Regions from separate parts of the Homo sapiens genome. Here region 2 is linked to region 1. The links come from fine-mapping of genetic effects on gene expression. A gene starts in region 1. The other region holds a variant in brackets. All regions are shown on one strand. Distances are between the middles of the regions. Region 1 holds the start of AIFM2 (AIF family member 2). Region 2 overlaps MACROH2A2 (macroH2A.2 histone).

The links. PIP is the estimated chance that this variant, and not a neighbour inherited with it, causes the effect. A credible set is the group of variants that fine-mapping cannot tell apart.
Region 2: its variant is the best candidate, but not a certain one, in a credible set for the expression of AIFM2 in monocytes after interferon gamma (Fairfax 2014, PIP 0.54).

The regions. Positions count from the first base shown.
Region 1 is chr10:70,130,961-70,135,472 of GRCh38, forward strand. It overlaps AIFM2 (AIF family member 2), which reads right to left and starts at 1,865. Exons shown (of 9, transcript NM_032797.6): 1 at 1,774-1,865. RefSeq lists an enhancer at 1,656-2,156 and silencers at 1,678-1,887, 1,720-2,039.
Region 2 is chr10:70,110,937-70,114,936 of GRCh38, forward strand. It overlaps MACROH2A2 (macroH2A.2 histone), which reads left to right. Exons shown (of 9, transcript NM_018649.3): 9 at 582-1,346. The coding sequence ends at 747. AIFM2 (AIF family member 2) reads right to left here. Exons shown (of 9, transcript NM_032797.6): 8 at 3,984-4,000; 9 at 1,335-3,393. The coding sequence ends at 3,242. Among named protein-coding and RNA genes, the nearest start is that of AIFM2, 20 kb to the right of the region's middle. The variant G/A (reference allele first, on the strand shown) is at 1,712.

The sequences.
Region 1 (4,512 bases):
AAAATTTGCTCAGTCAATCCTGTTTTCTCTGCCAAGAGCATCCACCCTGATCTCAAGGGTATTATTCCACAATAAGCAGCCCATAGGACTACTGAAAAACCAGGAAGTTACATTTATGCCAAAGCTGTTCAGAGGTTGTGCCTCAGAAGACACACAGCAGGAACCGTGTGGGCTCTGATCAAAGCAAGAATGTCATCCCAGAGTTGCTCCAGTATTGCTTCACAAATATTACAAATAAAACACGATGCTTTTTGAGTCGTCATGGCTCACACAAAGGGTAGGTTTCAACATCAGCCTCTGGAGAGCCACATTCCCAGAGTGGCCGTCCCGGATAAGAAGGCCACTACAGCACGACTCACAGCACCATGGAGGTTTCCTCCACCTGCGGGACACAGCAGGATGGAGACGGTTGGGCGGCCTCCCTTCCTGGGACACTCCATGGCCAGCCCCTCAGGGACTACTTGAAGAACAGAACCCCCAAAAGACCAGTTTCTGAAAAGGGACTCAAAGTCTAAGGGAGGCAGCCTCCTTTTATCCCCAGGGGAGGGCAGCTCTGGGGCAGACAGGTTCATCTGGATGTCATATTCACTCCCGCACAGAAAACCTAGGCCAAGCAATTTGTCCATCCTCCTCAGAGCCAGTTTTGTGGTCCCCATGGTCTGCCCACCACCTGTACCTGGACGCTGGCTTCATTTGGCCACCAGACAAAAGTCAGGCTGGCCCTGGAGTCCACCGGCCTGCCCAGCCCATCACTTCTGGGCTAGGTAGTGCTAAGCCTGCCCAGCCCACCCTGGCTGGGGCTCAGTGCCCTCTTCTTGGTGACACACTGTGCTCCTTGGAGAACTCCTCTCTAGGTGCTGGGGTGAGGGCAGGTGTGATCTGAGATCCCGGGGCTCTCTGGCAGGTGCATGCACGCACACTGGAACCTGATACAGGCTTTTGAACACAGGTGCACAGTCCAGAAACCTGCAAGTCCCATCCCAAACTATATCTGACTCTCTGCCCTATGCCTGTCCTCCTACAGGATCATCAGCCCCCAAGAGACCTCACCACTCCCCATCCTCACCTTAAATTCCAGGGTCAAAAAGACTCTCCTTGTAGGGAAAGGTAGGGTGTGTTGATCAGGTGGTGTTGGAAGGAGAGCCCCAATATAGGCCACTAATTCAGTTCCAGGTGGACTGCACGCGTCCCATCAGAGTTAGTTTACTCACCGCTGGTCTTTGTCCCTGCAGCACCCAGGGCTTCGGGAAGGGAGAAGCAGACTTCCTAGTGCTGCACCCCCCAGCTCCCCCGAGCCTATGGGCACTGGGTTGACTCCAGTTTCTTTCCTCTTAGAGACTGAGGTTTCTCCCTTTCCTCTCACACCTGCTTCTGTCCGGACCGGCCGCTTCTACCCAGCGGACCCTCGGACGGTCCTCGCAAGATCCGGGTTACACCCGCCCCGTGTTCCCTCTTCCCCGGTTCGCCCTTCCCGGCCTAAGCCCATCTTCCTTAGGAAAACTTAGCAGGGATTTAGGGGCCAAACCAGGAGGGTGGAGTTTTCTTTGCCCTCGGCCAGGAGCACATCTCCCTGTTGCGTTTTTTGGGGGAGACAGAGAGGGGCGGGCCTGAGTCGAGTATCCCTCTCCTCGCAGCGCCACAACTGCGCGCACCGACCTCCCCACGCCAGACGCGGCGTGAGCCAGGCCTCTAATCCGCTCGCCCCTCTTCCGGGTCCCGGTCCCGCCCGGGGCGCCCGGGGTCTCGAGAGCCCGCCTGGCGGCGCGATCTCACCTGTCGGCCGCGCCCGCGCGCTCTCGCTCCGGCTCCCGCTCCCGCTCCCGCTCCCGCTTGGTCGTCTTCCCGAGTTACTGACCCGAGGCGCTCCCGGGCGGGGCGTGACTCAGCACTCGTGCTGGTCCCCGACCCCGCGGCAACGCCCCGGCCAGGCCCCGGAAACGGTCCTGGCACGCTGGGGCTGGTCTCCGAACGGCCCGCCGGACTAACCTTGACCCTGAGCGAACGGCCTTGAACTTTGAAACAAATGCTCCCATGGCCAGATGTCGCCTCTCCGGCTCCTGCCAGCACCCGCGCCCCAGTCCTGCCGAGCCATTCAGACTTGGTTTAAAGTGTCCTTTCAGCATACTTTAAAGCAAAAAAGAGAGAGAGAGAGAGAGAGAGAGAGAGAGAGAGAGAGAGAGAGAGAGAGAGAGAGAGAAGGAAGGAAGGAAAACAAGCATCCCCCTGTTCCTCTGATTTTCTCGAGGACACCTTTAAAGCCACTGGAACCTTGGAGAGTGGGGTTCCCCTCACACGTTGGGCGCACTGCCAACATCCTTCCTTCAGACATACACATAATAATTCCGCAAACCCTGTTGAGCTCCTACATTTGCCAGGCACTGTGCTAGGCGTTGGAGGGATAACTTGGAGAGAAAACTGACAAGGTTCCTGCTTTCACGGAGGCGACAGTCTGGGAAAAGACAGATATTAAACACACCACCAAAAAATACATGTATAGAGAAAACAAAAACCATGTATCACCAACTGCAGTAAGAAAGATTGGGCATGGCCAGGCACGGTGGCTCATGCCTACAGTCCCAGCACTTAGGGAGGCCAAGGCGGGAGGATCGTTTGAGCCCAGGAGTTGGAGACCAGCCTGGGCAACATAGCGAGACCTACAAAAATTAGCCGGGCTTGTTGGTGCACACCTGTAGTCCCAGCTTCTCGGGAAGCTGAGGTGGGAGGATTGCTTGAGCCCAGGAGTTTGAGGCTACAGTGAACCATGATCATTCCACTGCACTCCAGCCTAGGTGACTGTGAGATTCTGTCTCAAAAAAAAAATAATAATAATAATAATAATAAATGAAATGAAATGAAAAAATAAAAAAGAAAGACTGAGGGCAAAGGAAGGGTGCAAATACTTCTCTCCAAGGATGAGAAAGAGGTAGATTTAGGTAAAGAGGAAGGAAGTGTGGTCTGGATGTGCAAAGACCCACAGGCAGGACAATGACCTGGAAGGCAGTGTATTGCCAGCTCAAATCAGACCAAGCTAACTCAGCGAAAGATAAGCCATCTCCATCTACTTACTGCAAATATTAGCACCTACTTTAAGAGTTGTGGATAAGGGCCAGGCACGGTGGCTCACGTCTGTAATCCGAGCACTTTGGGAGGCCGAGGTGGGTGGATCACCTGAGGTCAGGAGTTCGAGACCAGCCTGGCAAACATGGTAAAACACTGTCTCTACAAAAAATTAGCCTGGCATGGTGGCACATGCCTGTAGTCCCAACTACTCAGGAGGCTGAGGCAGGAGATTCACTTGAACCAGGAAGGCAGAGGTTGCAGTGAGCGGAGGTCATGCCATTGCACTCCAGCCTGGGCAACAAGAGCGAAACTCCATCTCTAAAAAAAGAAAAAAAGAGTTGTGGAAAGGCCTCAATGAGATCATTTTTATAAAGTGTTTTAACATGGTGCCTGGCACACAGTAGCAATGAATACACAGCAGCCATTTATTATAGATATTTTATATTGCAGATTATTTTGCCCAAGGCAACCAGAATGATTTATTTTTGATGAAAAATCCTACTCATCGTCTTAGAAAAACAATAAGCTAATATTTATTGATCACGAACTAAGTGCTTTGAATGACTTCTCAAGTTTTTTTGTTTGTTTTTGTTTTTTTCACAAAGGTCCTGCAAGGTAAGTTTTATTAATCTCCATTTTGCAGATAAGGAAATTTAGGCTCCTAGAGGCTAAAGAATTTAGGCAAGGTCCCTCAGCTAGTAAAGCAAGGGGGTGGGCCTACAATGGAGGTCTGAACCATGACCCCTTTTTGGGGGGTAGGGGGACGAATCTGGCTCTGTCGCTTAGGCTGGAGTGCAGTGGCATGCTCTCGGCTCACTGAAGCCTCCACCTTCCAGGCTCAAGCGATTCTCATGCCTCAGCCTCCCAAGCAGCTGGAATTACAGGCACCTGCCACCACACCCGGCTATAGTAGAAACGGGGTTTCACCATGTTGGCCAGGCTAGTCTCAAACTCCTGGCCTCAAGTGATCTGCCCACCTCGGCCTCCCAAAGTGCTGGGATTACAGGTGTGAGCCACTGAGCCCAGCCTGAACCATGACCTTAAAGCCAGGAAACCCCTCAGCAAGCATCATCCCTAAGGAGCCAGAGGGCACTGCTCAGGCAAAGCAGAATCTCAGTTGTGGGGAATTTACTGGGCATGTACCCAGTAAGATGTGACACAGAGAGGTGAACAGAGAGGCTACAGCCTGCCCACTGCACGGAATCAGCCCTGAGGCTTGGGATGGTCATGGAAGGCTTTGTGTAGAAGGTAGGCGTGCAAGGATGAAGGGGATGCCAGCTGGCAGGATGCAAGGAAAGGACTCCAGAAAGAGCAGGACAAAGATAAAGCTGGAAGAGAGGCGAGAGAGGTGTGAGGTGGCCCAACACTGGGCTCAGGTGTGCCAGGGCTGGTGTGGCCCATCTCTAAGGACCTGTCCCAAACCATGAAAAACTTTTTTTTTTTCCTTAAGAC
Region 2 (4,000 bases), 20 kb before region 1:
GCACTCTTCACTTGGCCAGCCCTGTGACCTTGACTAAAATCATTGTGCTTGGCAGGGCACGGTGGCTCACACCTGTAATCCCAGCACTTTGGGAGGCCGAGGCAGGCGGATCACCTGAGGTCAGGAGTTCAAGACCAGCCTAGCCAACATGGTGAAACCCCGTCTCTACTAAAAATACAAAAATTAGCCAGGCATGATGGTGCGCACTTGTAGTCCCAGCTGCTTGGGATGCTGAGGCAGGAGAATCGCTTGAACCCGGGAGGTGGAGGTTGCAGTGAGCTGAGATCGCGCCACTGCACTCCAGCCTGGGCAACAGAGAGAGACTCCATCCCAAAACAAATAAATTAATTTAATCAAATTAAATCATTGTGCCTCTCCGAGTCAGTGTGACACCTATAAAGTGGGGGCAACATGCCCCACCTGCCACCCCCAGGCTGTCCCTTTGGCTAGGGTCAAAGGAGATCATGCATGGACTAGCCCTGCACACAGCAAGGCCCCACCCAGTAAAAACAAAGGCACTTCATGCTCCCATGGGTCCCAGGGACCAAAATGACATCGGCTCTTCTTTTGCTTTGGCACAGAAACTGCTTTCCCAAACAGACTGCGGCCCAGGTGACCCTCAAAGCCATCTCAGCCCACTTTGATGACTCGAGCGCGTCCTCGCTGAAGAACGTGTACTTCCTGCTCTTCGACAGCGAGAGCATCGGCATCTACGTGCAGGAGATGGCCAAGCTCGACGCCAAGTAGCCGCCGCACTTTCCAGCAGGGATCGGAGGACGACCCGAGTCCCAAGAGTGGGGTTTTGCTTTTTAAAAGGAGAGAGGAGGGGTGATGGCAGGGGAGTGGAGGGTGGCCGGGCAGGTCCTGCCGGCGCAGGGAGCCCTCTGCCCTTCACACTCTCCTCCAAAAGAGCCTCCATCTGTAAGGAAGCAGGTCTCCGCGAGGGGTTTCTTTCCATGTGTTTTCCTCCTGTTGTTTTAGAACTTTTTTAAAAAAACAGACCTCGTTTTAGATTTATAGCATTGACTTTTACACACATTCACACAAGAAAAAAATCCTTTCAAAATTCTTAAATCTTCTGTTCCTCCTTTTTCCAAGGGAAGAGGGCAAAAAGTGGCCTGGGCTCTGTTGGTGTGCGTGTTCCGTGGCGGAGAGAAGAAAATGGGAAAGACATCTCACTGGTGCTTTTCTCTTTTGTTTTAGTGCCCCCCGCCCCCATCCCTATAATATCTGTAACTACTCCTAAAAAGGTTTTGATTCAGGCTTTTTTTTGGTTTCATTTTGTTTTTTTAAGAAAAAGAAAATGAAAGGAAAAAAATAAAAGATCCAGTGTCTTTCTTACAACATATTCTTTTATTGCAACATTTTCCTCAGTTTGGAAAACTGTGTCCCCACACGTAGGTCCTTCTAGAATATTGTAAGTCAATAGAAGAAGGCCTGTCGCTCACACACTGGGATTCCCACCTCGCTGGACCCCAGGTCAGATAGCACCAGGGCCTGTGTTTCTTAGGCCGAAGGTCCTGCCTCCAGGAAGGTGGGCTTCCCTTCGTGGTCCATAAAGAAAGACAGATACTTGGATGCAACCACCAGGGGAACAGCCATCCTCCAATAGAGGCACACGACTCACTTAGGCCTGGGCGACAGCCCCAACGGGATGGCCTGAGAACCCCAGAGAGGCTGGTGTCCCAAGGACTCTGCCCGAGTACCCAGA[G/A]GCCACCATCAAAAGGGAGCAGGGAGGGGCAGGGTGGGGAGGTGGGGCCTGAATTTCTTCAGATGAACTCATCAACCACTTCTGCTATGCAGATTTAACCCAGGCAGTCCAAGAGGGGCTCCTCTGGATTGGAAGATCTCTCCCAAATAGAGGAATCATTTATACACTGTAACATAGTCGGTGGCAGACATTAGTGCCCAGCTGGGCCTCCAGACAAGTGACCCTGGGGTTGGCCAGGAAACCAGAAGCACAAAACCACAAAGTCCCTCAAGGGCCCTCTCCCCATTCCCAGCATCAGCTGGAGTTTTGTCACTTACAAATCTGCCCATAAGTAACCTAGAAATATGCTGGGGGTCACCCGCAGAAACCCCCTCTGCTCGCTAATGGGTAAGCAGATGGCACCCCGCAAAGAGTCACATTATCTGCCCTTCCTTAAACACCTCCAATGGCTGGCAGGCCAGGCTGCAGTCTCAACCCCTGCTAGCCGTGTAAAAATGCACTCTGTCAGGGTGGGGTAACCAGAAGAGCACATTTATCTAGCTCTTTCTTCTTAAATGAAACCTGTGGTATGGAGTAGGATCTAAAAGTGGAAATGTGCTGGCCGCAGTGGCTCACGCCTGGAATCCCAGCACTTCGAGAGGCCAAGACGAATGGATCACCTGAGGTCAGGTGTTCGAGACCAGCCTGGCCAACACAGTGAAACCCCGTCTCTATTTAAAAAATACAAAAATTAGCCAGGCATGGTGGCACGTGCCTGTAGTCCCAGCTACTTGGGAGGCTAAGGCAAGAGAATCACGTGAACCCAGAAGGCGTAGGTTGCAGTGAGCTGAGATCGTGCCACTGCACTCCAGCCTGGGTGACAGGGCGAGACTGTCTCAAAAATAAATAAACAAACAAACAAATAAAGTGGAAATGTAGGAAGGCCATGAGGCTTAAGGAGCACAGGGATTATGCACCTGTTAGCAAATTGAAAACAAGGCTCCTGTGAAGTCCCTGGTTGTTGCAGAATGTATGGGCTCCCCGACCGTGTGATGGCAGAGATTTGGGGTGCTGGGCCTCTCTCCACCTCAGGTCCCTCCTTTGTTCTCAATGTGCAGCTCTCCTTCCTGCCCTCACAGACAGACACTGGCCACCAGAGCCCAGCAATCTGCCCTGCTCTGAGAGCTCTAAATGGCACGCGTCATGACCACAAGCACGTACACACACATGCACATCCCAGAGGAGGCAGGTGCAGAGGAAGGGCTGGCTGTGGCCTCCCCAGCACCATGCAGCCAGCACACATGAGCCGCTCACCCAGTACCACAGCAAGCACACCTTCCAAACCCAGAAAGTATCCTCTAAGGGGGGTATTTGTTTAATACCTCTCTCTCTCCCATTTTTGTTTTATACAAGTTGCATTTCTAGCCACCACATCATTGGCATCTTATTCCAGAAGAATAGCATTAGTTCTAGCACTTGCCAGGCGGGTGCCATGCGCCAAGCAGTCCGTACGCCCACCTGCTGCGGTAGTTCTCCCGCCTGGCCTCTCCATCAAGGTGGAGACTGCCTCATGGTTTTCCAGCTCGTAGAGACGAACAGGTCCCGGCTCTTGGTCAGCCGAACCATGAGCCGGCCCACATAGAAGCCACTGATTTGGCCCACACCGTCATTTCTCCCCATGGACAGGAGGAACGTCAGTGCACCTGCAAGCAGAGACACAGAAACAACCAGAACCTCACTGAACCGCCTGGGGCTGCACCTCCCAGAGTGCCGATCCTTCCCGAGGCCTTCAGACTCAGGGCCGGAAATGTGAAATCGCTTTAGGAAGGTGGGTGAGACCCTGATTTTTTTTTGTTTGTTTTTTTGAGACAGAGTTTTGCTCTTGTTGCCCAGGCTGGAGTGCAATGGTGTGATCTTGGCTCGCTGCAACCTCCACCTCCTGGGTTCAAGCCATTCTCCTGCCTCAACCTCCCGAGTAGCTGGGATTACAGGCATGCACCACCACACCTGGCTAATTTTGTATTTTTAGTAGAGACGGGGTTTCTCCATGTTGGTCAGGCTGGTCTCGAACTCCCGACCTCAGGTGATCTGCCCGCCTCGGCCTCCCAAAGTGCTGGGGTTACAGGTGTGAGCCACCGCGCCCAGCCTATTTTTAAAGAGCTCTAAGGGGATGTTTCCATCACCAGCTTGGAGAGTTTGTTCTAGTGGCCAGGTATGGGATAGCCCAAAAAGGCTTCCCCATGTTTAACCCCAAACTCTATTAAAACTGCAAAGCACATGGGGCCTCTCTTACCCGGCTTGTAGGCCTGG